Homo sapiens: one gene and its partner. The protein of the gene in region 2 purifies or fractionates together with the protein of the main gene of each other region. This does not show direct contact. Each region holds a gene or a part of one and is shown on either strand. Other genes may lie near its edges.

What was found.
Region 1: the proteins of SEH1L (region 2) and NUP133 purify together in Homo sapiens (affinity purification with mass spectrometry; 4 studies listed by BioGRID and IntAct, with this or other methods). This does not show direct contact.

What each region holds. Positions count from the first base shown.
Region 1 is NC_000001.11:229,461,748-229,477,394, forward strand, and holds part of NUP133 (nuclear pore complex protein Nup133), read right to left. Parts: intron 13,986-15,647; coding exon 13,891-13,985; intron 9,058-13,890; coding exon 8,833-9,057; intron 5,010-8,832; coding exon 4,887-5,009; intron 3,773-4,886; coding exon 3,673-3,772; intron 3,129-3,672; coding exon 2,877-3,128; intron 1,930-2,876; coding exon 1,796-1,929; intron 1-1,795. UniProt on the Homo sapiens protein: Involved in poly(A)+ RNA transport. Involved in nephrogenesis.
Region 2 is NC_000018.10:12,974,252-12,989,898, reverse strand, and holds the end of SEH1L (nucleoporin SEH1), read right to left. Parts: intron 14,167-15,647; exon of another isoform or gene 14,017-14,166; intron 11,148-14,016; coding exon 11,007-11,147; exon of another isoform or gene 11,006-11,006; intron 7,382-11,005; coding exon 7,224-7,381; intron 5,860-7,223; coding exon 5,709-5,859; intron 4,660-5,708; coding exon of another isoform or gene 4,647-4,659; exon of another isoform or gene 3,038-4,646; coding exon 2,842-3,037; 3' UTR 2,368-2,841; downstream 1-2,367. UniProt on the Homo sapiens protein: Component of the Nup107-160 subcomplex of the nuclear pore complex (NPC). The Nup107-160 subcomplex is required for the assembly of a functional NPC.

The DNA of each region.
Region 1 (15,647 bases), on a different chromosome or scaffold from region 2:
TTAAATATAAGAAAAAATGCAAAAATGCATGAAAAGAGAAAGAAAATCCATAAAAATAATTTTAAAATCATGATCAGTGCAAAAAATATTTATTTAGCAATGTTTTGATATACTAAATAAGCCATGTCCAACTACTGACCTTTTTTTTTTTTTTGAGACGGATTCTTGTTCTGTTGCCCAGCCTGGAGTGCAGTGGCACGATCTTGGCTCACTGCAACCTCCTCCTTTTGGGTTCAAGGGATTCTCCTGCCTCAACCTCCAGAACAGATGGAATTACAGGCACACGCCACCATGACTGGCTAATTTTTGTATTTTTAGAAGAGACGGGGTTTTGCCATGTTGGCCAGGCTGGTCTCGAACTCCTGACCTCAGGTGATCTGCCCACCTCGGCCTCCCAAAGTGCTGGGATTACAGGCGTGAGCCACCTTGCCCAGCCCAACAACTGATCTTTGATGAAGTAAGTCATACCCAGTCAATGAAATACTATAATGCCATTAAAAATGCTGCTGTAGAATATTTAATGACATGAACAAATGTTTGCAATGTATCAAGTGAAAAAAGCAGTTGACAAAACATGTTTGTTTATAATACATAGAGTGGAAAGACTGAAAATATAAACCAAATGCTTAAAAGGTTCTCTCTGGGTGGTGGCATTTTGAGTGATTTTTATCTTTTGTGTTTATAGTGGTTTTCTAAATTTTATACAATATCACTTTTACAGTAATAAAAAATAAGCTTTTCATAGTAATCAACTGACTGAATAGACTGGCTTCAAGCAACAACTTTGAATTCACTTAAGATAGTGTCACAATGGAAATTTTTTTTTTTTTTAAAGATAGGTCTTCCTCTGTCACCTAGCTGTGGTGTAGTGGCACAATCTTGGCTCACTGGCCTTGACCTCCTGGGCTCAAACGATCCTGCCACCTTAGCCTCCTGAATAAGTGTGGCCATGGGCGTGTGGTGGCATGTTTTTTAAAAAAATTTTTTTTGTAAAGGCAGGGTCTATGTTGCCCAGGCTGGCCTCAAACTCCTGGCCTCAAGTGATCCTACCGCCTTGGCCTCTCAAAGTGCTGGGATTACAGCATGAGCCACTGAGGCTGGCTGGGAACTTTGTTTTTTAAACAGGAAGCATAATATCCCTCAAGGAAAATGAGAATGTTAGGTGTATTTGTAAAGCTAAGCTCTCTTAAAGTAGTCTTCTATGCTCCCGAGTATCTTCTATACAATTTTTAAGAACTTTACCAATATTCATGTACCTAAGTACTTTTATAATAACTAGAAAATATATAAACAGAAATGAAAGTTATATTTTCCAAAGGTCAAAGAATCTTTCAGTAATATTTATATATAAAGAATTGTGTGGTCAGGCGATGGCTCATGCCTGTTATCCCAGCACTTTGGGAGGCTGAAGCAGGAGGATCGCTTGAGCCCAGGAGTTTGAGACCAGCCTGGACAACATAGCGAGACTTTGTCTCTACTGAAAAATGAACAAAATTAGCCAGGCATGGTGGCGAGCTCCTGTGGTCCCATCTACTGGAAAGCAGGAGGTGTGGGAGGGGGTGAGGTGGGAGAAGTGATTGGACCCAGGAGGTTGAGGCTGTCGTGAACTGTGATCTCGCTACTGGACAAAATTTACAAAGAAACGCGACATACAAATTAGTATCTTCTCATCAAAGTTAACTACAAAAAGATCGTATCATATTCCAAAAGCCCTGATTACAGATTTGAAATGGCAAAGCCATTTCAAGAAAAGGCAACTAAAGGACTCAGTGGCCACACACCCAACACTCATCACCTGATCAGCAAACTGGGTCATGTAGCGCTGGAGTCGGCTCTGGTTGTCAGTCTGCTCACACATTTGTACCAATATATCAAAGTCACAGTATTTCTCTGCTAGAGAAGCAGCCCACAGGTACTGGCCTAGTGAAACTGTGGGAATGAGAAAAGATGGGAAAAAATCCTGTTAGCAAAACTTAAAATCTGTAATAAAAAATGTTACTTGAAATTTTATCTTTATTCCTATTATAAACCAACAATCATTAATGGAATGGAAACCTTCCCACTTACTGGCACTTAGTTTCACAATTCACATCAATTTCTTAAAGATGCAAATTCAGGCCAGGTGCGGTGGCTCACACCTGTAATCCCAGCACTTTGGGAGGCTGAGGCGGGTGGATCACCTGAGGTCAGGAGTTCGAGTCCCGCCAGGCCAATATGGTGAAACCCCATCCCTACCAAAAATACAAAATTAGCCAGTTGTGGTGGCACACGCCTGTAATCCCAGCTACCTGGGAGGCTGAGGCAGGAGAATTGTTTGAACCCGGGAGATGGAGGTTGCAGTGAGCTGAGATTATACCACTGCACTACAGCCTGGGCGAGAGAGTGACGCTCTGTCTCAACAAAAAAAAAAGATGCAAATTCAGACCCTTGTTTCATCACTGCCTCCCCAAAACGCTATTCTCTTCCTTCATGTAAGAGTAAAGCAAACTCTTCCCAGTCCTAGCCTGGAGTATAATGTGTCCTTTGCCAAACAGCCATAATATCTTATCTGTACCCCTCAAGCAGCCCTCACCAGGCTCTACTTTGCAATCCAGTTATTCACGTAAAGGTCTGTGATGCTAAGCTCTTTAAGGGTAGTCTCCACATGTTGTTTGTTTATGTATTTATTAATTGTCTTCAGTATCATCTATGGTACTTATACCTAGATAGTACTGGAAAAAAAGTTGAATAAATGAGCACAGAAAGCTGTGCATATTTGCTTTAAGTTCTTTATTACAGTTGGATTAACACTACCACACTGAATATACTGAATTAACTATTCAACCCTTTCATCCATTCAGCAAATTTAAAACTCTTGCCAAGTATCATGAACTTACGAAGAGGAGATAAGAGATCTGATCTTTTCTGTAGGTATTCCATCTCCAGATTGTCATATCTTTCCCGATTACTGGATTTATCCACAGACTTAAGCTGAGAAACATAACCATCCAGGAAGCAATCGATCAGGGCTACCAGCTGCTCGGTCACGATGTTTCGGAGGTTGCTGTCTGCCTGTGGATAAGCCACCTTCAGGACAATCTCATGCTGGCGTATTATTACCGTTCGGATGCCACCAGGACCACTTGTTGCTGTGAAATTACACAAAATAATATGGTTAAAGTAAGGGATCTAGTGATGGCTAAAGGAAAGACTAATAGCATAAAAATTATGCCTCTTCATCACTGCTGGAAAATTACATTGAACAGGGATTCAGGTGATACCTGTCAATGCCCTGCTTGAATCCCATCTTCTCCAAGGAGATTTCCTCAGCAAAGCCAGGTAAACATGACTCTTCTTCCTTCTAAATTCCTTTAATGCTACTCCACTTACTTTCTTGTATTAAATCAACATAAAATATAGTCCATACCTCCGGGGCCAGGACTGCTTCTATGAATAACTATTTGAACTAAAACCTAGTAAATGCATAAGTACCAGTTGAATACATAAATTATAGAGAGATCGATAAATAAGAGCAAGGGACGAATAAAGTGATTTTGACAAGAGCTGCTCATTTTGGAGACGGCACTTTTTCATTTCACTTACAAACCTACGCTAGGGGAATAACACAACTTCTAAAAATGATGGGTCATTAGAAATATATTTTGAACAACTGTTAATAAATCAGTATATTACCCGTCCATGGAACATATTCAGGTTCTTTTTCTAGTGATTCTTCTCTTCTATACAAAGAGTTTCTATTTTGGCGATAATGACTAGCAGCCTGCAGCATATCCTGGAAAAAAAGTTAATGTGTTATCACATGCAAAAGGTGATGGATCACAGTATTTCTGAAGATAATTTAAGACAGCAAAGTAAATTAGTAAGAAAAAATACTCAGGGGCCAGGAATGTTGGCTCACACCTGTAATCCCAGTGCTTTGGGAGGCTGAGGTAGGAGGATTGCTCCTAGCCTGACAACATAGTGAGACCCCATCTGTACAAAAAATTTTTAAAATTACCTGGGCATCGTGGCGTGCACCTACCGTCCCAGCTACTTGGGAGACTGAGGCAGGAGGACTGCTTGAGCCCAGGAGGTGGAGGCTGCAGTGAGCTATAATCAAGCCACTATAAACCCAGCCTGGGCAATGGAGTGAGACCATGTCTCACAAAAAAAAAAAAAAAAAGAAAAGAAAAGAAAATGAGAGAAAAAAGTCAGCACAGATCTGCATGATTACTTTTTGGTTCTTTCTGCTTTTGAAATTTGTTTTACTCCATAATTTAACTTCAGTTTTGGCAAATAATAGTAGGAAAATTATTTGGCAAAGTAGGAAAATCATTACTACAAGTCCACTAGCTAAAATTAAATGGAACGTTTTAGTCAATAGTAAAAGTAGCAAGGTTTTGAGTAATTAAAAAAATAGAAATGAGAAATATTTAGACAGTTACATTAACAATACGTTTGCAATCAGGCATGGTGTCTCAGTTCTGTAATCCCAACACTCTTGGAGGTTGAGGCAGGAGGAAGTCGTGAGCCCAGAGTTCAAGGTTACAGTGAGCTATGATGGTGCCACTGCACTCCAGCTTGGGTGACAGTGAGACCTTCTCTCAGAAAAAAAACCAACTAAAAAATTGCAAAGATACAAACACATCTTCCCAAATGAAAGGTTTATTATTCTACCAAATAGAAACTCAAGATTATAGAAATTTATTAATAGGCACCAGGCTAACATTCAAAATACTCATTAGCTGATTAATAATAAAATGACATTTTTCTAACTTTTTTGGGATTAACAAATGTCTACAACCTTATACATTATCGGCAATACAGAGTAGGAACATGGAAACCAGTTCCTTGTCTATCCATGCCCTGGGCTTTGATTTGCTGAAGCCTTTACTATATTTTTGTACCTTGAGAATATTGTTCACATTGATCACCACTTCAGCCCATTCAATGGAATCCATAGGTGCATCCCTCAAGACTTGCTCCTCATGCTCCAGTAAGCACTCACAGATGGTATCTACTTGGGATACCTGAGAGAATACACAGAAGTAAACTACTTACAACAAAAATTATGGTGATGGGTAACAACTACCCAGTGAGTTTTACTCATTAAGCCATATCCTCAGACCTATAGATGGAGGAAAATTTATTGGCAGTTGATGGTAAAAATAAATTCAAAAATCAAGAAAAGTCACATCTCCTAACTTTTAAAAGTCAGAGTGCCCAAATAAGTCTTATAAACAGGCAAATTCTGGATTGTTACTGAGATTTTTAAGCGATGATATTTTTTATTATAGCTACTCTGCTCAGTGCATCTTTAAATAGCACTAGGTTACAGATGACATCACTTTACAATGTAATACCCCAAACTAATGAACTAATAGACTAAAATAATGACCTCAAAAAGTGAACTTGCTAATTTCTTTCTTTGAGGAATTCCCCTTCTTCAGACATAACAGAAACATTTGTAGAACAGAAGTAAGCAACATAAGAGAATGAACTAAATACATAACTTCTAACTCTTCCTTTGTCATTAATTAATACATGGAGATAACAGTGCAAAAATACCATCAGGCACTGAAACTCCTGTTTCAAGTTCAAGTCTGCACTTAAGCTTTCCCCCCATTATTTAGAGTTTGCATAGCAATGGACACTCAGAGATAAGAGGAAAGAAAAATCAGATTAGCTGCCCTCAAGGACCTCACAAACTGGCTGAAGGAACAAGTTATATAGGCACAGATAAAACATGACCCAAACAAAATCCCTCCCTTTTGCAAACCTTGTTCTTCCTTTTGCATTTCTGATGTTAGCCAAAGGCATCCTAACAGCCCAGGCAAGAAATCTTTAGCACATTTAATTTATAAGCTTAAGTGTAAGAATATTTTACATTGTTAACATGAAAAACACAATGAAAGCCTATATAATGGCCGGGTGCGGTGGCTCATGCCTGCAATCCCAGCACTTTGGAGGTGGGTGGATCACAAGGTCAAGAGATCAAGACCATCCTGGAAAACATGGTGAAACCCTGTCTCCACTAAAAATACAAAAATTAGCTGGGCGTCGTGGCGTGCACCTGGAGTCCCGGCTACTTGGGAGGCTGAGGCAGGAGAATTGCTTGAACCAAGGAGGCCGAGGCTGCGGTGAGCAGAGATTGTGTCACTGCACTCCAGCCTGGCGACAGAGCAAGACTCAGTCTCAAAAAAAAAAAAAAAGGAAAGCATATATAATATAAAAGACAGAAAATAACATAAAAGCACATAAAATGCCAAAACACTTGTTAAATTCTCTTATCATGTATATATTCAGTGATTTCAAATATTGCTCATATGCCGTGTCAACATAGTCTGTTCCTTAAGCAGTGAGCTCTGCTTTTCCAGAGCCCTGGGAGGTACAAGGCCTTCCCAAACTGGAGACAGAGTCAAAGTGGAGAGCGCACCCTCAGGCAGCTCTGTATTGTTTTACTTTCTATCAGGGCTGCCAAGTCAAAATATCGTTCTATATGGCCCACCAATCAGAGATTGATTTTGGTTAACCAGCTCGTCCCAAAACACAAATACTCCTTAGACAGGTAACTTGTCACCCCCAAGTGGAAGGACAGGTAAAAAGAAAGAAAAACTACTATATGCATATAGCTATTGTATTCTCTTTTCATGATCATTATGACACGGGAGAAAACCTTTATAACTACACCCCAGAGAAGCTAAAGACCAACGAACATCATGAGAAATGAAGATAAATAGTGACAGGAACAGTCCTAAACATTACCATTTTTCATATGGAACATTCTTTTGAGGAGCCAATCACATTTTTAGTTTTGCTGTATCATATTCCTAAAATATTATTCTATATGTATCCAACTGATAATTTCCAGACCCTTCTCCAATAATTCAGCTAACTGAAACATGTACATACACTAAATTGACACTTATACTTTGCCCTTTGATCCAAATGCAGAATAATGAACCAGGCTCTTGCTCAGTTCTTACAAGTAGTCTGTAATTAATTTTAAAAAATTGTCTTATCATATAAAATTATATATGAATAAAGACCAAAAAGGACACAAAAATGACAACAACTTGATTTGTTAGATCATGAAACTTGAGGTGATTTGTTTTTCTTTCAGATTTCTGGCATACTGTCTAGATTAAAAACAAAACATAACAAAGTGCTTTTCCTTCCATTCCCCAGGAACTAACCCAAATGCATAAAAGCAAAGAATTCACACTAAACACATTTATGGAATCAACAGGAAGACTGAATTTAGGTTATAGTACATCAAACTTAGGTTACAGTACATCAAACATTAAGAAAAAGAGACTTGTCGGCACAGTGTGCTACATGTTAGAATACAGCTAGGCTATAGGAGGAAGGAAGCAAAATTTGAGACACCAAATAGAGTTTGAAGTTCCTCAAATGCATAAGGAATTCCAAATTTCACAGAGCTCAGGGAAGAGCTGGCCCTGTTTCTAAAACCAGATAGTTCTGCAGTCTCAGTTAAGACAACAGGTCTAAGTTCTAATGTCACACCTTTAAAGGGAGACAGCGAAGTCTGCCTTGCTGCCTCATCAGGCTGTGAAGCTTCACAAAAGCACGAGGACTGCGTCACTATTTCCACAATGTCCAGCTGCCACTGGCTGCCCAGCATCTTAACCATTTCTGTCTTTGAAGTTTGTAGCAGACTTTACTTTTTCTCTGAAAATAAATCTGATTCTACAAGCAAGGTGTAGCAACAGGATCCTAGGAGGTAGCTGAGGAGTTCAGTGAAGGTACTGTTTGCAAAGGTGTGGGCAAGATTAAGGGGTCCAAAAAGGGATGGGGCAGCACCCTAGGATGAGGCATTATCAACCTCAGGCCTGAAGAGGCACAAGGAGGGGGCAGCTACTGGAAACACAGAGAAAGCAGTTGGACAGGAGGCACAGTCCCTGACAGAGGGGCACAGCCAATGTAAAGTGCGCACAGGCAAGGAAGAAAGCTGGCAGAATAACTACTCCAACTTCTGGCCTTATGGCAGGGCCTCACATTCATCTGACCTGGCAGAAGCCGGAGGGCAAGGGAGCCCATTCAGGAAGGCCACCTTGCTGTGGCAGAGTCAAGAGTAGATCTGCCTGGCCAACAAGGGTGAAACCAGGTCTCTACTAAAAATACAAAAATTAGCTGGGCATGGTGGCACATGCCTGTAGTCCCAGCTACTTGGGAGGCTGAGGCAGGAGAATTGCTTGAAGCCAGGAGGCAGAGGTTGCAGTGAGCCGACATTGCACTGTTGCACTCCAGCCTGGCAACAGAGCAAGACTTAGTGCCCCCTGCCCCCAGAAAAAAGAGTAGATCGAGAGAGACAAAGGAGAAGATCAGGATGGATGCAGTAGCTCACGCCTGTAATCCCAGCACTTTGGGAGGCTGAGGCGAGTGGATCACCTGAGGTCAGGAGTTCGACATCAAACCCCATCTCTACTAAAAATATGAAAATTAGCCGGGGTGGTGGCTAGCACCTGTAATCCCAGCTACTCGGGAGGCTGAGGTAGGAGAATCACTGGAACCCGGGCAACAGAGTGAGACTCCATCTCAAAAAAAAAAAAAAAGAAGATCAGCATGCAAAGCAAATAGGTACTTGGAGACAGTTATTGGGGGAAAAAAGTAAACAGGGAGCACTTCTTAGTCAACTTTGCAAACTCTTCTTTACAGGTAACTGATCAATGAGACTTCTGAGTGACACTCTAGCCAGAAAATCTGGAGTCCAATTTAAAATTTCAGTGAGATCTTTTGTGATTTAACTCGTCCTCACCGTCTTTCCTGCCTAGGGCATGATCACTAAATGGCACAGTTCTACAAAGCCACATGAAAGAGGACTCATCTTACCTCCCTGAAAAAGACATCTGCAGGAGTCAGGTTGGATGGGATTTCATACTCCCTCTTGTTCAAAGCAATCAATATGGCTGTGTTGACAAGGTCAGAAAGCCGGGAGTGGTGGTTCTTGAGAACAATGGCGGCTGACAGCTTTTCGGCATGCTCACAGAGCAACAGTCGAGTGGCCATCGGTGTCCCTCTAACTGGAAAACTGCCTAGACGTCCAAATAAGCCAACCTTGCAAAAAGGCAAACACATATTCTCAGAAAGCAATTATGGTAACATGCAAAATACCATAGCTGTATTTTCCCCAGAAGCACCCTGGGCAGTCACTGGCCCCAGCTTTCCCCCAGCAAGTCCCTCCAGCTGTCTCTTGTTTTAACTGTTTCTAACACACAGACACTTCAGCCAGGCCATTAACACCCACAAGGAAATGTAGATATTCCTGTTCTAAGAACAGGGTCACTCCAGGGCTTCTGTCCACTACTACTGTCTCTGCATATCATGTTTCCCAAATTATTGTTTATGGTTATCAAAACAGTCACACTGCTCTTTTCGTCTTTTTTGAGACAGGGTTTTGCTCTGTCGCCCAGGCTGGAGTGCAGTGGTACAATCACAATCACAGGTCACCCTAACCTTAAACCCTCAGCTCAAGCCATCTTCCACCTCAGCCTCCCAAGCAGCACGCCACCACAACAGGATAATTTTTACACTTTATTTTTGTAGAGATGGGGTCTCACTATGTTGCCCAGGCTGATCTTGGCCACAAGATCTCCTGGCCACAAGCGAGCCTACTGACTCGGCCTCTCAAAGCACTGGAATTACAGGTGTGAACCACTGCACCTGGCTTCACACTGCCCTTTACTAGCTGTATCAATTAACTCCCCTAGGTTCCAGACTTTCAGAAATCAGAAACTCAGCAACCTCCACCTTCAAGGACTGATTTCCATACCCCTAATGCTGCTGGGAGGGTGGGGGTGTCTCTAACCCTTTGCATCTTCTACTGAGTTGCTTGGTGCCCATCTGTCCTGTGTTATGATCTTCTAGGGGTTTTCCTAAGCTTTCTCATTGCATATGACATTACAATAACCTGAACTAGGAAAGAGCCAAAAGACAGGCATAAATAATGAATACTTTTTCACATTTTAAGTATAATTCTCTTTCGTTAATAAGTGACCTGATTTTCTTATCCTTCATTTTCTATATGCTTTTGTAGTATTTACATGCTAGGAGATATCTTTTTATAACACAAAAGGGGTCACACTGTATATATTGTTCTGTACCTTGTTTTGATAGTATCTTATTTTTTATAACACATTTAGATATTCTTATTTTTAATGACTGGTTAATAATTCACTGAATCCTAATGTATTTAACCTGTTCACCTTATTATTTTAAAATAAGAGTTACATGGTCTTTCCTGACTTGAATTTATTTCCTGGTTCCCTCAAAAATATTTTAGGTGTAATCGGCCAGGCGTGATGGCTCATGCCTGTAATCCCAGCACTTTGGGAGGCCGAGGCGGGCGGATCACGAGTTCAGGAGATCGAGACCATCCTGGCTGAAACAGTGAAACCCCGTCTCTACTAAAAATACAAAAAATTAGCCGGGCGTGGTGGCAGGCGCCTGTAGTCCCAGCTACTTGGGAGGCTGAGGCAGGAGAATGGCATGAACCAGGGAAGCGGAGCTTGCAGTGAGCAGAGATTGCGCCACTGCACTCCAGCCTGGGCGACAGAGCGAGACTCCGTCTCAAAAAAAAAAAAAAAAAAAATCTAGGTGGAGTTTTCATGCAAGGTCATCCCAATTGCCTGCTTTACTTTGCTTTGATTGCAGCACTGACAGTGAAGCAATGGCTCTAGATTAAAACTATTCTAGGCCAGGCACAGTGGCTCACACCTGTAATCCCAGCACTTTGGGAGGCAGAAGCAGGCGATCACCTGGGTAATGTGTACAAAAAATACAAAAAGTAGCTGATTTGGTGGCACATGCCTGTAGTCCCAGCTACTTGGGAGGCTGAGATGGGAAGATCACCTGAGCCCGGACAGGCTGTAGCTACAGTGAGCTATGATCATGCCACTGCACTCCAGCCTGGGTGACAGAGTGAGACCCTGTCTCAAAAAAATTAAAAAACTAAATATACATATATATATATATATATATGTACAATCATTCTAGTCACACAGTGAATATGATCAGATTACCTCCCTGCTTCTGTAAGGTATGGAAACACAATGTATGAACACAGAGGCTTCCCTCAACATCAGAAAACTAGAGGCAAGGGTACTGTTCTGAAGTGTTGGTGTTACTTCCACCCCCTTCAGAATGAGGATATGGCCCTGCAGATGCCAAGTTTGGCTCAAGGAGAAAAGGAATATTTCTCTGTATTCAGAAATATTCCCTAGGGCTGGGTGCAGTGGCTCAGGCTTGTAATCCCAGCACTTTGGGAAGCCTAGGCAAGAGGATCACTTGAGGCCAGGAATTTGAGACCAGCCTGGGCAACATTATGAGACCCTGTCTCTACAGCAAATAAAAAAATTAGCCGGGCGTGGTAGTGAGTGCCTGTGGTCCCATCTATTGGGGAGGCAGTGGTGAGAAGATTGCTTGAGCCCAGGAGGTCAAGCCTGCAGTGAGCTGCGATCGTGCCACTGCACTCCACCTTGGGCAACAGAGACCCTGTATCCAAACAAAAAACACACAAAAAAAACTTTCCTTAGTATCTAGTTATACCTTTTTCCTAATTATCAACATAAATTCTTCCTCATTAGTTAAATGAGCTCTAAATATTAAAGGAAATAGAAACATAAAAGGCATGGCTGGAATGGGGTTTTCAGAACTAGCTAGACATTGCCTTAGGACAGATACTGCTACCAGCAGCCGTGGAACTTCGTGAGGGTTCTCTGGAACCCAGGAAGGCTGAGACAAGAGTGCTCATGCTCTCATGGCTTTCGGGCCTCTGATAAATCCATGCTTTTAGTGTGGCGAATCAGGTCAGGGCAAGGTCCTGCCGGCCCAGTATGCATATCCTCTTCCAATGAGAATGACTTTGCCACTCTTCCCATCGAGAGGTACAATCACACTGGGCACAGTGGCTCACACCTGTAATCGCAGCACTTTGGGAGGCAGAGGCAGGCGATCACTTGAGCTTAAGAGTTCGAAACTAGCCTGGGCAATATGGCAAAACCCGTTCTCCACAAAAAATACACAAAATTAGCCAGGTTCAGCACCATGCGCCTGTAGTCCCAGCTACTGGGGAGGCTGGGGCAGGAGAATCACTTGAGCCCAGGAGGCAAAGGTTGCAGTGAGCTGAGATTGCGCCACTGTACTCCAGCCTGGGCGATGGGAGTGAAACCCTGTCACACACATACAAAAAAAGAGGTATAATAAATTCTTTAATTTTTCATCCCAGCTGTCCTTGTGACTTGCTTTGACCAATGTCACTTTACTGGAAGTAACATTATGTGACATCTGAGATGAGCCCTTAAGAAGCCTACAGCTTCTATGTTCATCTGTTAAGACCACAGGAAGCCAGTCCAGCCCAGAGCAGGATGAGCGACTAAATGGAGGAGAACCACATAGCCTCTGTTGACAGTTGGAACCAACTGCCAGAAAGCGGGAAGAGGCTTGCAGACCCTCCAGCTCAGTGCATCCTAAATGCAGGTCGAGTGATTCCGGGTGAAACCAACAGAAGAACTGCCTGATTAACCCACAGAATTGTTTTAAGCCACTGTGTTTTGGGGTGGTTTATATGGCAGTAATAGTTAACTGATACACTTGGCTAATTAAACGACCATATCGGGAGAAAATATGTTTTTTCCTCATTAATCCATATCCCACCTAAAATAACAATAACAAAAAAAGAGAGACTCAATGAATGATTGGAGTTTTCTTGCCAAGAAAATAAAAGAGTAGACAGGAGATAAACCATGCACAAAATTGAAAAAGAATGTGGGATTAGGAACAATCAAGTCATTTCTGAAATTATCTAGTGCTGCACTGTCCAATAAGGTAGCCACTGTCCACAGTGGCTATTTAAGTAAGTTAAAATTCAGTTCTTCAGTTGCTAGTCACATTTCAACTGTTCAGGTCACATGTGGCCAGCAGCTGTCCCACTAGACATCACACTAGGAGAACATTCCCATGATCACAGAAAGCAATGGATTGGACAGCACTCACTAGAATCTCCTTAACATAAAAAATTAGCCGGGTGTGGTAGTGAGTAGGCACTACTGAGTTTGAAAAACAATCAGGGAAGAGACTGGGCCTGGTAGCTCATGCCTGTAACCTCAGCACCTTGGGAGGCTGAAGTGCAGTGATTTCTTGAGCCCAGGAGTTCGAGACCAGCCTGGGCAACGTAGTAAGATTCTGTCTCTACAAAAACTGAAAAAAAATTATATGGGCATGGTGGCACAAACCTGTAGTCCCAGCTACCCAGGAGGCTGTGAGAGGACTGCTTGAGCCTAGGAGGTCAAGGCTGCAGTGAGCCAAGACTGTGCCACTACACTCCAGACTGGGCAACAGAGTGCCCTGTCTCAATAAATAAATAAATAAATAAATAAAACAAACAAACAAAACCCCAAGCAGGTTGAAATTCATTCATTTGGCTACGTAATATGTCTGCAAGCCACTTTTATTGACGAGACAAGAATGAGTGAATTTATGTAACAATTCTGTCCAGTAGCAAAACATTTTCTAATTTAGGCACAATATATGTGAGGATAACCTTTACCCAAAAAAAGAAAAGGAATACTTTCAATGAGGATTTGATTCTAATGGCACCTCAAAATTAAAAGTCATACATAAAAATCTGTCAAATACAAAATCGACTCATGAAAACTTAAGTTCTTACACAAACGCACACGGGAAATCTGAATGAAGTCCTGCTTCTTATACCTGGATTAACAGGCTTGTACACAGCCCTGGAATTACGGACTTTTAAATCAGCAGAGACAATGGAAAACACCAGTCATGCCCCACCCAATGAAACACCTCAAAATAGAGAGAAGAGACTTCCCACTGTGTTGGAGAGACTGCCAAAGGCAGAGCCCTGTGCCCAGCACCCTGCGCTCTTACTTGATGAATAAAGTCCATAAGAAAAGAGTGAGCTTTCATCTTGTCTTCTAGCTGGTGAAGGATAATCAGTGACGTATTGCTGAACCCAGGTGCTTCTGTTAAAACACAGTGATAAAACTTAGAACATAGTGGTTTTACAACTATACTATTTTAATATCAGTGGCTAACTGCTATTAAAATAAAAAGCTAAGGCTAGGCACGGTGGCTCACACCTGTAATCCGAGCACTTTGGGAGGTCGAGGTGGGCAGATCACGAGGTCAAGAGATCGAGACCATCCTGGCAAACATGGTGAAACCCGATCTCTACTAAAAATACAAAAATTAGCTGAGCGTGGTGGCGCATGCCTGTAGTCCCAGCTACTCAGGAGGCTGAGGCAAGAGAATTGCTTGAACCCGGGGAGGTGGAAGTTGCAGTGAGCCGAGATTGCGCCACTGCATTCCAGCCTGGCGACAGAGCGAGACTCGGTCTCAAAAAAGAAAAGGGAAAAAAAAAAAAAGTCTATACAAAATAAAAATATCAACCTTACAATACAGTTGTTTATAACGTTACTCAGGAGTTTTAAAAATTTAAGAGTAAATTTTGGAGGTTTGATACAATTCATACTGTATTTATTCAAAATGCAAAATACGTTTTTAGTTTAATCATTTGTAACAATTTAAGCTTGACAGTGCCAACAAAAACAGTCAAAGAAAGGAGATGAGCTCTCATGTTTTCTTCCTAAATCTCTAATGGAGCTTAGTGAACTTGCTAAGAAGTAGGATAATTAGGGAGAGAAACATGTTTGAGACAGTTCCCTGGTATCTGGGGACCCCAGAGTTCCCCTCGAGTTTCTGAGGTGGAAGTAAGAGTAAGAGGGGCAGTCACCTGGGACAGGCAGCTAGACATGTCTTGTCCACTTCTACATATTGACATTTGATCACTGCTGCTCTTAGGGGAATGGATCATTTCTATTAGTCAAATATACTGATTATGCCAAAATTATCATTTAATTTGGGGGTAAGTAGGCTGGGTGTGGTGGCTTACACCTGAAATCCCAGCACTTTGGGAGATCAAAGCGGGTGGACCACCTGAGGTCAGGAGTTCAAGACCAGCCTGGCCAACATGGTAAAACTACATCTCTACTAAAAATACAAAAATTAGCTGGGCATGGTGGTGCACACCTGTAATCTCAGCTACTCAGGAGGCTGAGGTGGGAGTATCACTTGAACCCAGGAGGTGGAGGTTGCAGTTAGCTGAGATCGTGCCACTGCATTCCAGTCTGGGTGACAAAGTAAGGGAGACCCTGTTTCCAAAAAAAAAAAACAAAAAAAAAAACTGGGATTGGGGGGCAGGTAAGTGCCAACTGTCTACCTATGCAACCAATTTTCTTTTAGAAATAAAAGCCAGGAAAGCTAAGTAAGGCAATTAATCTGCCTTGGATAGAACAATTAGGATTTGCTCCAATGTTCCTTTAGTTTCCATTCTGTTATCTAGACCTGTTCTGACCCTTTTTCAAAACATACTATAAGGAAGGTTACCTGGCCGGGCCTGGTGGCTCACACCTGTAATCCCAGCACTTTGGGAGGCCGAGGTGGGTGGATCACGAGGTCAGGAGATCAAGACCAACCTGGCTAACACAGTGAAACCCCGTCTCTACCAAAAATACAAAAAAATTAGCCAGCCATGGTGGCGGGCACCTGTAGTCCCAGCTACTCGGGAGGCTGAGGCAGGAGAATGGCGTGAACCTGGGAGGTGGAGCTTGCAGTGAGCCAAGATC
Region 2 (15,647 bases):
GTGAGCAAAGATAAATGCAGAAAATCTCAAGATTTTCTGAATCCCAAAAAAGTAAGCCAAATGCTCAGCCCTAGAGCTGACCTCTCTTAACCTCTTTTTCTACAAAGCGGTCACACATTGGAGGTGAACTGCTTAAATGTGTCTACAGGTTCCGGACTGTCACTCACACCAGATCCTTGTTAATAAATGTCCTTCCTCCATAAATATCCTCAAGTCACCACAGCACTCCCCACAACACTCAGTAACCTGATAGGACTCTATTAACAGAGATCTCTGATTCAGAGTCTCGGCAGCAGGAGAGCCTGGACTCTGACGCCAGGCTGCCTGGATCTGAATCCTGGCTCTACCTCCCTCTTCCAAACTGTGTAGCCTTGGGCAAGTAGCTTTAACCAGCCGGTTTCCTTGTCTGTAAAGTGGGGATAATTAAAGCGCTTGCCTCAGAGGCTTACTGTGAGGATTTAAAGCTACTTCTGTAAGGTATCTAGAAAAATAATGGCCCATGGAAATACTCAACAAACATTAGCTATTATCTTATACCTCAGTATCTCACCTCACTTGCCAACTGGAAAGGAGGAACAGAACTCCCACTGTGATTTCCAAATCTCTTTAGACACTGAGTAGAGCCTGCAGAGGCCCCATGACCAGGGTGCCTCCCAGGGAATTAGAAGTGAGGCCTATCCAGTTTTAAGTTCAGACATCTCTCAGCTCCCCTTTTACCAACTGCTTAAAGTGGTATGCCTCAGCCAATACTCAAAACCTTCTACAATGTAACCACAAGGTATGATTTCAGGTTAATGTCCCAGTAGTTCCCTAAATGAACCCTACTCTTTCATCAGACTGTTACTTATATCCTATTCCGTAAACACACCCCGGCCCTCTTTTACCTATTGAAATCAGACATCCCTTCCAAATTCTGCCAGCTCAAATAACTTGTCTCTTTTATGCCTACTATACAATTTCTACCATTATTACAAAGCTGAACCCATTACCTTTTGTAAATTCTAAAAATGCCTTCTCCCACGAGTGTAAGTTTGTGTGCAGACTACCTATTTTTCTACATACCCCAGTGTTTGGCACAGTATCTTGCACATGGTAGATGCTCAGGATTCACTAAATTAAACTGGAGAATGGTCTCAATTTCATTATTCCATTCTTACCCAAGGTACCTCTATGTCTGAAAGCTCAAAGACATGGCTTCTTAATTCTGGGTTAGATTCAGCATTAAGACTTCTTGTTTGATCCTCCATAAGGCTACAAGCCTAGCAAGTCATTTAACCAGAGGAAGACCTTTGAGAATTATTTGAAAAAGATATTTACATTGAAATGCTAACTTTAGAGACAAAACACTTTGATTATTAGACAATAAAACTCAAATGTTCCTTAAACTAAAATGAATAGGCTAGGTGAGGTGACTCATGCCTGTAATCCCAGCACTTTGGGAGGCCAAGGTGGGATGATGGATTGAGCCTAGGAGTTTGAGACCAGCCTGGGCAAAAAGTGAGACCCCTCACTAAAAAAAAATTTTAAAAAAATAGCCAGGGCATGGTGGCGTGCACCAGCAGTCCCAGCTACTCAAGAGACTGAGGTGGGGGGATCGCTTGAGCCCGGAAGTTCAAGGCTGCAGTGAGCCATGATCATGCCACTACACTCTAGCCTGGGCAACAGGGTGAGACACTGTCTTAAAAAATAAAAAATAAAATAAAATGAACAGAATCTTTCTATCAGCTCTTAATCCTTTGCATATTAAGAAGTACTAGAGCTATGACACTATTCAAGGAAAGGCGTCTTTGAAAATTAGAATAGTTATAATAACTATGTCACCTATGTGATTACCTGATATTTCATGTAATCTGTTACATGAAATACTGTTCAAAACACCTCTCTCTCTAGCCCTGATAAGAGGTTAAACCCTTGACAATTCCTGACAAAACTGAACCAACAAGCATATTACTAGTTTTAATCATTTTACCACAATTATAATCAAGTACATTCTCATTTTAAAATATTCTAGAAAATATTCTAATGTTGACTAATTAGACTGAAAGTCAACATCTGTCCATTCTAAATGTTAGTAGTCTACATACTGACTTTCTACCTTTTAAATAAATGTAATATTTGCTCACATCTCCTAATTTTTGTTTGGGTTTTTTGTGAGATAGTGAAAGAAGAGTAAGCCTTGGCAATTATCTTAAATAAAATACATTCTGTTTTTATAAGGCAAGAGATTCGTATATTTTTAAATATATTTTATTACATAACCTACTTGGATAATAATTACAAAAGCTTTAAACAGTAATTCCAAGTAGTGAAAGGCAATTTCCTTTAAAAAAAAAAAAAAAAAAAAAAGACCAAAAAGTCCACATTAGGTTTTGCTGCTTTATACACAGGAATGATTTATTTTACATACTAGTCAGTTACAACATTAGCCTGTAAAATGAAATCCATTTTTTAAGGTCTCATAAGGCAGAATAAACTTCATAATATTATGCTTTCACATTAGCCAGTCTGATAAAGCATAAACAACTTAAGACTATGGTAACAGTTTAAAATAAAATTTACAGAACAGGCACTTTGAAGTCAGCTACTGTGTGTAACTTCACAGTTAACGTTACTTGGACATATCTCATTTCATCAAAGGTTATCACCCAGTGAAGCAAATGTTCCTTTGATGCAGACGCACAAACAGATTTAGGTTCCAAACACTGTATTCTGGTTGTAATACATGCAAGACAGACCCTAAGTTAGAAAAATCTTCTGAAAGAAAATGAAAAACAAAAAGCAGCCAGAAATGAAAGCATTTACAAGCACTTGAATAAGGCCTTTCAATGTTAAATCAGTGTTTTAAATCCCTTCATTCTCAGGTAAGGGATTAAGAGGCCGAGAGAGATATCGTCTGCGAGGGTGAGGATACTGGAGGTTGGCAGTGTCAGCATCGCAAGAGTGCTCTACCAGAGGAGGAGGAGGAGGAGGAAGGAGCTGGGCATAACTGGACCATCTCGATCCAGCCCGTGGGGAATCCAGAGGGGTAAAGAAATACCTGAAACAATGAAGACAGGAACAAAACACCAAACAAAACAAAAACAGGAAAAAAAAAACACAAGAAAAAGAGAAAAGTAGTAAATACAAAGAGAACCAAAGAGGAGAAAACACATGCTAGAAAAAAAAAAAAAAGCTTTAGTATATTCATGCCAAAACTAACAGAACATAATAGCACAAATCAAGACCCTTACTCAAATCAAGATTGCTTAAGCAAGTATAGAAACTTGAAAGGAATACAATCTGTTAAACTTAAAATGTTAAAAAATATATATAAATGTTACAAAGAAAAACATTAATTTTATAAATTCAAAACATTTTCTAATCTCTCAGAAACATCTGATGCTATTCTGTACATTTACAGATCTAGTTAAGTTTTTTATCTTAAGCAATGGTTCACTCACAGCAGCAGCAAGCACACATTTTTTTTAGTGCGTACATGATACTGGGAATACACATAGTATGGCTGGCTACTGCAACATGCTTTTGAAGAACTACAAACATTGAACACTTATTTTTCTGCAAAAGCCTTAGAATAGCTACCAAATTTTGATAAGTAAAAGGATTCACAGAATGACTGTGCCCTACTGTTATTCTTCTTCCATCTTGTAACTTACCGATAATACTTACGCATATTAGCAAACTTAAATATTTATAGCTTTGTTATCAAGGTCAGAACTTTACAGGACATGAATTAATTTAAACAGCGAACTAAATTAAGAAAATCTTGAGACATGGAATGCTGACAATTAATTTACATGCACAATTTTAGTAAAATTTTAATGGCTTCTCTTAATAGTGTGTGTCCAAATTTTGATTTGAAGGAAGCTAAGCCATGGAATAAATAACACCATAAAAATACACAAATGTATATAAGAAACATTTATCTCTTTAGTGACTATGAATTAAAAACTTATAAAAAAAGTGTTTCCATCTTAGTCCCAAATTGTAAATGAAACAATACCAAATGCTTAACCTGGCTACAAACTGTACAGTCAAGTTCCTTTCATTTTACTATTACTACTTTATTAATTCACTCCTTTACTAATATTTTTTAAATATTACAAAGAAATGACAGAGTTGTACTGAATATCATGGATAAAGCAAATCTACAAAAAGTAAACAAATCAGCACTCAAAACAATCTTTATAAAAAATATTTATTCAATCTTCAAATTAAAATTATAAAAGTTCATCATTTTAAGCTGTTTTAAGAAAGCAAAAGAAATATGTCTATATTTTCCAAATGAACTAAAGTGGTATTCCCCTCCTCCCAACTACTCAGATAAGAATGGTAACAACCCTTTTAATCTTTAAACCCAAATTAGTTTCAGGAACATTTCAAAAAATTGTTTTGGTGACAATGTCTCAACAGAAAGCCTCTCCGTTTATATTTCAAAAGTTTCAAATAGTGTCAATAAACTGACTAGTACAAAAAATATACACTGTATTTTTAAAGGCCTTTTGGATTGCGTTTAGTAGTAAGCAGGCTGCTGGTGTATCTTGGGAGAGGTCAAACGGCGCTGGGGAAGGGGAAAAGGAGCTCGCTTTCCATTCCTGTGTGCATGCAACAAGCAGCAAAACAGCAAAGTTACTCCAGTTAGCTTGTACTCAGCTGTGCTTTCTGTTAAAGGACATAATACAAATGGAAAAGGGAAAATGCATCACAGATCTAACACAGATGGTTATTGGCACAATAAGAATACAGATCAAAAAATAGAAGCTATTTACAAAAGAAAATATGCAGTACAGGCAGTGACCAAAAACCAGACTTTAAAAAATCAACTCTAATATTATTTGTTTCATGAAATAATCTTTATAATCTGGTATCTTCCACGGTAACCTGAAATTGTTTTGATGCATGTACTTAAAACCTCAAAATCAAAAGCAGAACTTCTTTATGAAAACATAACAATATAAAAATAGTTGAAATTTTAAATACAATTTTCTTCTTTTATATAGGATAACAAGAGGATATAACCACAGGACAATTCATTAGGCTGTGTTTTGACGTTTCCTGAATTCTATTCCAAATTATTCACAAAGGCATATTAAAATAATTTTATCTTACAAATTCACATATTTAAAATTTGAACATGGAAACAGACTCTAGATGACATCAAATATTCCTTATTATGATATACAAGAATGTAACATATGCTAAATATTCTAAAAATCAATCTCGTGTTTTATTATTTCCTCTTATTTCTATTAAAGTTTTAAACACAAAAGCCAAATAACTTAATGTACCCTCTTCTAGAAAGCCTTAAGAAATGTATTTTATTTAAAATTTCAGTTTGACCTAATGCAAAGACCACACTACAAGCACTAAAAAACACTAATGTTCATTTGGACTAAAACTCTCACCATTAAACCAGATAACCTTCCTCTCACTGTTGCGGAAGCAAAGTTGAATCTTAAACCTGTAAACATTTCTACCAATAGACCACTAAAGCTTCAGAATATAATGTAATGACTTCATAACCTACCTGCAAATATTATGACCAAGTAAGCCAAATACATAGCTAACAAAATGAATTCTTAAATGCTAATACAAGCACATGTGAACATTTCCACTCCATCTTATAATCCATGAAATAATCCACCTTAAGTATGGCTACCAGAATGATTTAAAACAAAGATGATTTCCAGTTTTCCCATGAAGCAGCCTACCTGCCAGCAGAAGATCCATTTAATGAATTCTGAAGACTTGGAATAGTTGAACCTAGGGAAGGATTTGAGGTTCCCTGCTGAGAACTCCCATTGACTGGGCTCCCATTACCTTTCAAAATACCAGTACACTTCCAATTGTCCATATAATTAGCTGAAAGGAAAATAATCAAATACATTAACATGATTAATACCAATGCCTAAGGGCACAAATCTGTACCCATGTCCTTAAACTACAATTAAAGAAACGAGACAGAGGCTATGAGCTACATTTCTTTCAGGATAAACATTAAAGACACTTTTTAAATGAAAGACATATTATCTCAGTTTTAACAACTTTTTAGAAGTTTTCAAAGTATCACTAATTTTAAAAATATAAAGCTTTCACCACCCATCTTACAGATACTAGCAAAGACAATTCTCTGAGCTACCACATTATGAAGTTAATATTAAAATCTTCATTATAATATTAAAGTCTTCATTATAATGAATTTCACTTACATATGTATGTAAGGTAATGAAGTTGTCTTCTTAATTATGCAAGTATAAGTTATAAGGGTACCTATCATGTCTTCTGAAATGGATGTAGGTAACAAAACCTTTGGAGCTTCAGTGGCTTATCCAAAATGGCCTTATTAGTTTGAATGAAAAATTGGTCTCTGAAGACAATGAGCCCAAGAAAATCAAGTTAGGCACCCTGCTGGGGAGCATGGCAAGGTGGTCCTGAATAAAGCCTAAAGGCAGAAAAGGACAGCAAAGCCCCTAAAATCAAATTACACTGAGGAAAGGAAGGTCTGGGCTGGTTTTACCAAAGCCCAAAATTGAACATGGGAGGCCCTCAAGCTTACCCAAACTGCACTTTGGGAAACAATAACTGCTAAATGGCAAATAAACAAAGATAGCTATAATTCTGAATGCTAAGTATGGGACACCATTCTATGGTGGTGCACAAATCACAGACATCTCTGCCTAATGGATAATCATCCAAGGAGAAGTGCAGAACCAAGCTACAGAGACCACAGTCAGTGTCAACTGACCAGACCTTCTCACTCAGCCTGGCACTTAGAAGAAACTTACAATCAGGGCCCCCAAGGCTCTTAACTTATGGGAGCTGCAGAGAAGAAGCAGGGAAGATACTGGATTTTCTCCTATTAAGGATGGATTGTCTAAAGCAATTTATTTGATAAAAAAGGAGCCACTACAGTCCTAGCCTGAGTTTGTAGAGCAGTCATGTAAGGTACATATATGACAACTGGTATCTTTTTATTGGAGATATTGCATATTCTGTTGTAATTACTTTAGTTTTGAAAACTGCTCTGTTCCACATAACTTAAAAAACAATTCAGTCATTAACTTCTATGAACTAGGTAAACTGATGTTCAAAATAACATAAATTAATATGACATTAAAAGTAACTGTAAAAGACCATTTTCAAAAAATATTTCAGAGTTTACATTTTAAGTAAAAATTGCAGAGCAGAAATATAAACCAACAATTACCCCTTCACTGAACTCTTACCTTTCCACAATCTTACACACCCATCATCTCCTGAAGATGCTAGCACCGTTCCTGTTATATTCCAACTCACTCGCCAGACCTGAGAATTATGATTATCGAACTGAGCCACTATATGGATTTCAAACTTTGTTGGCCCACCAGAGGAAGTCAGTTCTTTCCTGTTAATAAAAAACATTTTCTGAGGCATTCCAAACAAAGTTTTAAAACATATATATATACACACACATATATATATACACACGTAAAATTCTAAATTAATACAAGTGGTCTCGCCACCACATCACTTTATAATAATGTGCACATCTGCCCAAACCCCACACCTTGGCCCTTGAGCTGGGCCAATGTCATTTTCATTTAACTCGCCAAGACCTGGAGTGATCCCAGCACATAAATGATACTCAGTGACTGTTTCATGGAAGAAAGAAACAACAAAACAGGATGATTTTATTCTCCCACACAAGGCAGAAGAATAAAATAGATGACAATAATTAATTTAAAAAGGCAGGGCAAGGCCAGGTGCAGTTGCTCACACCTGTAATCGCAGCACTTTGGGAGGCCAAGGTGGACAGATCACTTGAGGCCAGGAGTTCAAGACCAGCCTGGCCAACATGGCGAAACCCCATCCCTACTAAAAATACAAAATAAAAAATTAGCCAGGCATGGTGGCGGGCGCCTGTAGTCCCAGCTACTCAGGAGGCTGAGGCATGAGAATTGCTTGAACCTGGGAGGTGGAGGTTGCAGTGAGCCAAGATCAAGCCACTGCCCTCCAGCCTGGGCAACGGAGTGAGACCTTGCCTCAAAAAAAAAAAAAAAAAAAAAAAAAAATGGGCAGGGCAGCAAGTAGGAAAGAATGAAAGAATGGAAAGAAAAGAACTGAAATTCACAATTCAAAATTAAAGTTAAATATGTTATTCACAAGACTGTCTCAATACTAATTTAGTTTTCCCTAAATAGACTGCCACTTGTCATTAAATATTTATAGATTATCAGTTATATTTGGAGAATTGTTAGTTTCAGCCTAAATAAAGCACAGTTAAGAGAATATAAATCTGCTCTTGACTCAATTCCCCTTTCCAAAAAGACATATATTTATATATAAAATGTTCATTAAATAATCCATTCTTCAAAAATGACATTAATTTAAAAGTAACTGTAGGTGTTGGCCGGGCTGGTCTCCAGCTCCTAACCGCGAGTGATCCGCCAGCCTCGGCCTCCCGAGGTGCCGGGATGGCAGACGGAGTTGCATTCACTCAGTGCTCAATGGTGCCCAGGCTGGAGTGCAGTGGCGTGATCTCGGCTCGCTACAACCTCCACCTCCCAGCTGCCTGCCTTGGCCCCCCAAAGTGCCGAGATTGCAGCCTCTGCCCGGCCGCCACCCCGTCTGGGAAGTGAGGAGCGTCTCTGCCTGGCCACCCATCGTCTGGGATGTGAGGAGCCTCTCTGCCTGGCTGCCCAGTCTGGAAAGTGAGGAGCGTCTCTGCCCGGCCGCCATCCCATCTAGGAAGTGAGGAGCGTCTCTGCCCGGCCGCCCATCATCTGAGATGTGGGGAGCATCTCTGCCCGGCCGCCCTGTCTGAGAAGTGAGGAGACCCTCTGCCTGGCAACCGCCCCGTCTGAGAAGTGAGAAGCCCCTCCGCCCGGCAGCCACACCGTCTGAGAAGTGAGGAGCCCCTCCGCCCGGCAGCCACCCCGTCTGGGAAGTGAGGAGCATCTCCGCCCGGCAGCCACCCCGTCCGGGAGGGAGGTGGGGGTCAGCCCCCCGCCCGGCCAGCCGCCCCGTCCGGAAGGGAGGTGGGGGGGGTCAGCCCCCCGCCCGGCCAGCCGCCCCGTCCGGAAGGGAAGTGGGGGGGTCAGCCCCCCGCCCGGCCAGCCGCCCCGTCCGGGAGGTGAGGGGCGCCTCTGCCCGGCCGCCCCTACTGGGAAGTGAGGAGCCCCTCTGCCCGGCCAGCCGCCCCGTCCGGGAGGGAAGTGGGGGGTGTCAGCCCCCCGCCCTGCCAGCCACCCTGTCTGGGAGGTGAGGGGCGCCTCTGCCCGGCCGCCCCTACTGGGAAGAGAGGAGCCCCTCTGCCCGGCCAGCTGCCCCGTCCGGGAGGGAGGTGGGGGGGTCAGCCCCCCGCCCGGCCAGCCGCCCCGTCCGGGAGGGAGGTGGGGGGGTCAGCCCCCCGCCCGGCCAGCCGCCCCGTCCGGGAGGGAGGTTGGGGGATCAGCCCCCCGCCCGGCCAGCCGCCCCGTCCGGGAGGGAGGTTGGGGGGTCAGCCCCCCGCCCGGCCAGCCGCCCCGTCCGGGAGGGAGGTGGGGGGGTCAGCCCCCCGCCCTGCCAGCCGCCCTGTCCGGGAGGTGAGGGGCGCCTCTGCCCGGCCGCCCCTACTGGGAAGTGAGGAGCCCCTCTGCCCGGCCAGCCGCCCCGACCGGGAGGGAGGTGGGGGGGCCAGCCGCCCCGTCCGGGAGGGAGGTGGGGGGGTCAGCCCCCCGCCCGGCCAGCCGCCCCATCCGGGAGGTGAGGGGTGCCTCTGCCCGGCCGCCCCTACTGGGAAGTGAGGAGCCCCTCTGCCCGGACAGCCGCCCTGTCCGGGAGGGAGGTGGGGGGGGGTCAGCCCCCCGCCCGGCCAGCCGCCCCGTCCAGGAGGGAGGTGGGGGGGTCAGCCGCCCGTCCGGGAGGGAGGTGGGGGGGTCAGCCCCGCGCCCGGCCAGCCGCCCCGTCCGGGAGGTGAGGGGCACCTCTGCCCGGCCGCCCCTACTGGGAAGTGAGGAGCCCCTCTGCCCGGCCAGCCGCCCCGTCCGCGAAGGAGGTGGGGGGGTCAGCCCCCCGCCCGGCCAGCCGCCCCATTCGGGAGGTGAGGGGTGCCTCTGCCCGGCCGCCCCTACTGGGAAGTGAGGAGCCCCTCTGCCCGGACAGCCGCCCCGTCCGGGAGGGAGGTGGGGGGGTCAGCCCCCCGCCCGGCCAGCCGCCCCGTCCGGGAGGGAGGTGGGGGGGTCAGCCCCCCGCCCAGCCAGCCACCCCGTCCGGGAGGTGAGGGGCGCCTCTGCCCGGCCGCCCCTACTGGGAAGTGAGGAGCCCCTCTGCCCAGCCACCACCCCGTCTGGGAGGTGTACTCAACAGCTCATTGAGAACAGGCCATGATGACAATGGTGGTTTTGTGGAATAGAAAGCGGGGAAAGGTGGGGAAAAGATTGAGAAATCGGATGGTTGCCGTGTCTGTGTAGAAAGAAGTAGACATGGGAGACTTTTCATTTTGTTCTATACTAAGAAAAATTCTTCTGCCTTGGGATCCTGTTGATCTGTGACCTTACCCCCAACCCTGTGCTCTCTGAAACATGTGCTGTGTCCACTCAGGGTTGAATGGATTAAGGGTGGTGCAAGATGTGCTTTGTTAAACAGATGCTTGAAGGCAGCATGCTCGTTAAGAGTCATCGCCACTCCCTAATCTCAAGTACCCAGGGACACAAACACTGCAGAAGGCCGCAGGGTCCTCTGCCTAGGAAAACCAGAGACCTTTGTTCACTTGTTTATCTGCTGACCTTCCCTCCACTATTGTCCTATGACCCTGCCAAATCCCCCTCTGGGAGAAACACCCAAGAATGATCAATAAAAAAAAAAAGAAAGAAAAAAAAGTAACTGTAAAAGACCATTTTTAAAAAACATTTCAAAGTTTACATTTTTAAGTAAAACTTCCAGAGCAGAAATATAAACCAAATCATAGTTACCTCTACTCTCTCCTCCACAAACAAAGGTAATCAGAAGGCAAGAGTATTTTCAAATTCATAAATGCTTCTAAAACTCACCTCACAGGCTTTAATGTAAAAATTCTCACATCTTTGGTCGCTATTGCTAGAATATGGAAAGATCTTCCCAAATTTGGAGCGAATGCAATATCATGAACAGGATCAGTGACTGTCATAAGAGTTTCAGCTTTTGCATATTTCCTAATGGAAAAACAATTGACATTAACATTTTAGAAATAAAATGTGCAAAAATCCACACATCACTGCATCTCACCTTTTTTTCACACTGCTCACAATCATGTAGTGCTCACCTCTGTAGTGGGCTCAACAGCAGCCCCCAAAAGAATATGTCCAAGTCCTGACCCCCAGACCCTGTGAATGTGACCTTATTCAAAAATAGCGTCTTTGAAAATGTAATTAAGGACCTCAGAATGACATCCGAGATTTAGGGTGGGTCCTAAATCCAACGTGCAGTAAGTATTCTTTAAAAAGAAGAGAAGAAACGCAGAGACAGAGAGGAGGCAGCCATGTGAACACAGAGGCAGAGATTGGAGTTATGCTGCCACAAGCCAAAGAACTCCCGGAGCCAGCAGGAGCTGGACTAGACCAGGAAGGATTCTAGAGGAAGCACAGCCCCAACACCTTGATTTCAGACTTCCGACCTCCAGAACTGTGAGTGAATACATTTCTGTGTTAAGCCACCTGATTTGTGGTAATTTGTTATGGCAGCCCTAGGAAATTAATACAACCTCCCACGTTTCCTCCTTTAATAATGTACATTTAGCTCGAAACGCTTTAATAAAAATTTAATTACAATAAGGTCTTGGCTGGCCACAGTGGCTCACACCTGTAATCCCAGCATTTTGAGAGGCTGAGGTGGGAGAATTGCTTGAACCCAGTAGTTCAAGACCAGCCTGCGCAACACAGCAAGACCCCATCTTTACAAAAAATACAGAAATAGCTGGGCATGGTGGTGCACACCCATTGTCCCAGCTACTCAGGAGGCTGAGGTGGGAGGATGGCTTGAGCCCAGGAGGCGGAGGTTGCAGTGAGCTGAGATTACGCCACTGCACTCCAGCCTGGGCAACACAGTAAGACTCAACTGCAAAAATAAAAAATAAAAAAGGGCTTGATTTATTAGCCACTAACATCTTTCTTAGGAAAAGAGTAACACATTGCCTAAGTATTTGAATGTAAATAAAAAAGTAAAGCTGGTAACAGGAATTGAGGTTTTTTTGAGACAGTTTCACTCTTGTGCTGGAGTGCAATGGCGCAATCTTGGCTCACTGAAACCTCCGCCTCCTGAGTTCAAGTGATTCTCGTGCTTCAGCCTCCTGAGTAGCTGGGATTACAAGCGTGCACCACTACGCCTGGCTAATTTTGTATTTTTAGTAGAGACAGGGTTTCACCATGTTGGTCAGGCTGGTCTTGAACTCCTGACCTCAGGTGATCCACCCGCCTCTGCCTCCCAAAGTGCTAGGATTACAGGTGTGAGCCACTGCGCCCAGCAGGAATTGAGTTAAGTGATAATAAAAGGAAACTATGCAAAGGCTATTTCATCCTTGCAATTCTATTTCTTTATCTATAAATACAGAATAAGAGGATAATGAAGGCAGTGGTAGATCAGAGTTTTCTACTAGGTTCTTCTAAGATTGAATATCCTGGACAGAACGGCAGCACCTAACCCCCTGCATGTAGGAGACTGGGTGGAGACATCTCCCCATCCCACCTTTCTACAGCATTCTTCACTTGACCTTCTTTTCATCCCAACATTCTTCCTAAAATCTCTACCAAGCTGGTACACACCTCAAGGTTCTCTCCTTGATCTTTCTCACCCATCCAATCACCCTAAGCAATCTCATCCACATCCTTGCTTCTACTGTGTGGTCTGCAGCAGCCTGGGAGCTTCTGGGAAATCCAGAATCTCAGCCCCCTCCTGGGGCCTACACAATCAGAATATGCTTTTTTTTTTTTTTTGAGACAGAGTCTGGCTCTGTCGCCCAGGCTGGAGTGCAGTGGTGTGATCTCGGCTCACTGCAAGCTCCGCCTCCCAGGTTCATGCCATTCTCCTGCCTCAGCCTCCGGAGTAGCTGGGACTACAGGGGCCTGCCACCACGCCCGGCCAATGTTTTTTGTTTTTTTTGTATTTTTTAGTAGAGACAGGGTTTCACCATGTTAGCCAGGATGGTCTCGATCTTCTGACCTCGTGATCTGCCCACCTCGGCCTCCCAAAGTGCTGGGATTCAGGCGTGAGCCACTGCGCCCGGCCAGAATATGCATGGTTTCTACACCCATGGTTTCAGTACCTATAAACCAATAATTCCTAAATCTATCCCCTGCAATTCAGGGGATAGATTCTGGCCTTCTACCAAAGGCCAGAAATAGGACAGGTGGAGCTAAGAGCACACATGCTGCAGCCAGAACGTGTTTGAATCCAGGCTGTAACGACCTTCAGCAAGTTCTCCGTAAAGTGGGAGGAACACCCGTACTGTGGCAGAGAGATTCTAAGTGCCCCCATGACCCGCACCTCCTGGTGGTCCCGCCCTTGTGGAGGCTCCTCCCCATGAGTGTGAGTGGGGCCCGTGGCTTGTTTTCTACCCAGGGGACGGAACATGGCAAGGTGGTGGGACAACACCCGTGTGACTACAACACACAAGCCTGTGACGCCTGCCTCATGAGAAGACTCTCCTGCTTTCAGGCCTTGCAGAAGCAGCTGCCATGCTGTGAGGACACAAGGGAGGGTCTCGTGGCAGGAACACGAGTGCTGCCAACAACCAGGTGAGCTCCGAAGTGGAGTCTTTCCCAGTCTGGCCTGACTCTTGACCCACAGACATTGAAATACCGAATCTGTACTGTTTCAGCCACTGAGTGATAATGCTGTCATGCAGCAATAGACAACTAATCTCAGCTATTCTATCCATCTGCCTTTACACATCCCCACCTGGATGTTCCAAACGCACCTCAAACATATGTCTGAAATAAATTGTGCTTACCACATTCACTCCTCTTTGCTCAGTCCCCATCTCAACAAGTGGCACTACCATCAGCTAGGTCAGAAACCAAGACTCACGTGACCTACAGCTGGTGCCTCCTAGACAAGTCTCCCCGGTCCCTCTTCATCCCACGCCACAGTGCATGTCCTCATTCCACATCATAGTGGGCTACTGCATTCATCCCTGAGTTCCTGCTCCCAGTCCACACAGCTGCCAAAGTCATCTCCCTAAAAGGTAAATACAACCTTGTGACTCTACTGGACCCTGCAAAAGTCCAAATGCTGCCAGGATAGAGATCAGACTTGGCAAGCACCACTCTCCAAAATCTGCCTGGCCTGTTGGCCTGCCCCTCCCCTGTCTCTCTCCTGCATTAGCCTCCCCACCCACCGCCTCGACCCCACGCCCTTGTCTTTGCTCCTGCCTCCTCTCTGCTTGCAGAACACCCTCTGTCTTTCAAGATTCATGCTCAAACATCATCAGCTGAAACTTCTCACCCTACCAGGCAGGTATGTGCTGCCATCTCTAGCAGGTGACCATCCTCATCCATATCCTAGGCGCTGTAAGCTCCTTCAGCTCTTAGTACAGTCCATGCTGCTTATGAAATGTTGAAAAAGTGAGATTTTTTTTTTCTTACCTGAGGCAAGCTATATATTGTAATTAATTAAGGTGGCTGGGCACGGTGGCTCACGCCTGTAATCCCAACACTTTGGGAGGCCGAAGCAGGCAGATCACCTGAGGTCGACAGTTCGAGACCAGCCTGACCAACATGGAGAAACCCCATCTCTACTAAAACTACAAAATTAGCTGGGTGTGGTGGCACATGCCTGTGATCCCAGCTACTTGGGAGGCTGAGGCAGGAGAACTTCTTGAACCCAGGGGGCGGAGGTTACGGTGAGCCGAGATCACACCATTGCACTCCAACCTGGGCAACAAGAGTGAAACTTCATCTCAAAAAAAAAAATAAAATAAAAATAAAAATAATTAAGGTTATCTAAAGCTTCTCCTATCAGAAGGAGCCAAATAAGATCCTCAATGAGAGTGTAAATAAAGAGAATGAACAAAAAAGACTTTGTTTCTGGTCCTGACTCTGGACCTTAGACTAGTCATTCACTCTGTTGGTCTCAGTTTTCTCATTTGTAAAACAGTGTTAATAAAAGCTGTCTCCTCTACTTACAAGGTGGTTGGTAGGATTCAAACTTCATAACACACATAAAAATGCCCGGTAACCTATATAAACACATGGCACTTCTATTATCACTATCAATCCTAGATCTGTTTTAGTATTTTCACTCACAAATAAAAACAAATATATCCAACACTGGTTAATTTGGCAAATGTCTCCTGTCTACTAAATGGTGATACTACTTAGAAAAAGATAAACAGGCCGGGCGTGGTGGCTCACACCTGTAATCCCAGCACTTTGGAAGGCTGAGGTGGGCGGATCACAAGATCAAGAGATGGAGACCATCCTGGCCAAAATGGTGAAACCCCATCTCTACTAAAAATACAAAAGTTAGCTGGGCATGGTGGCGGGTGCCTGTAGTCCCAGCTACCGGGGAGGCTGAGGCAGGAGAATCGCTTGAACCCGGGAGGCAAAGGTTGAAGCGAGCCAAGGTTGCGCCACTGCACTCTAGCCTGGAAACAGAGTGAGACTCCATCTCAAAGAAAAAAAAAGAGAGAAAAAGATAAACAGGTATTAATAACGATA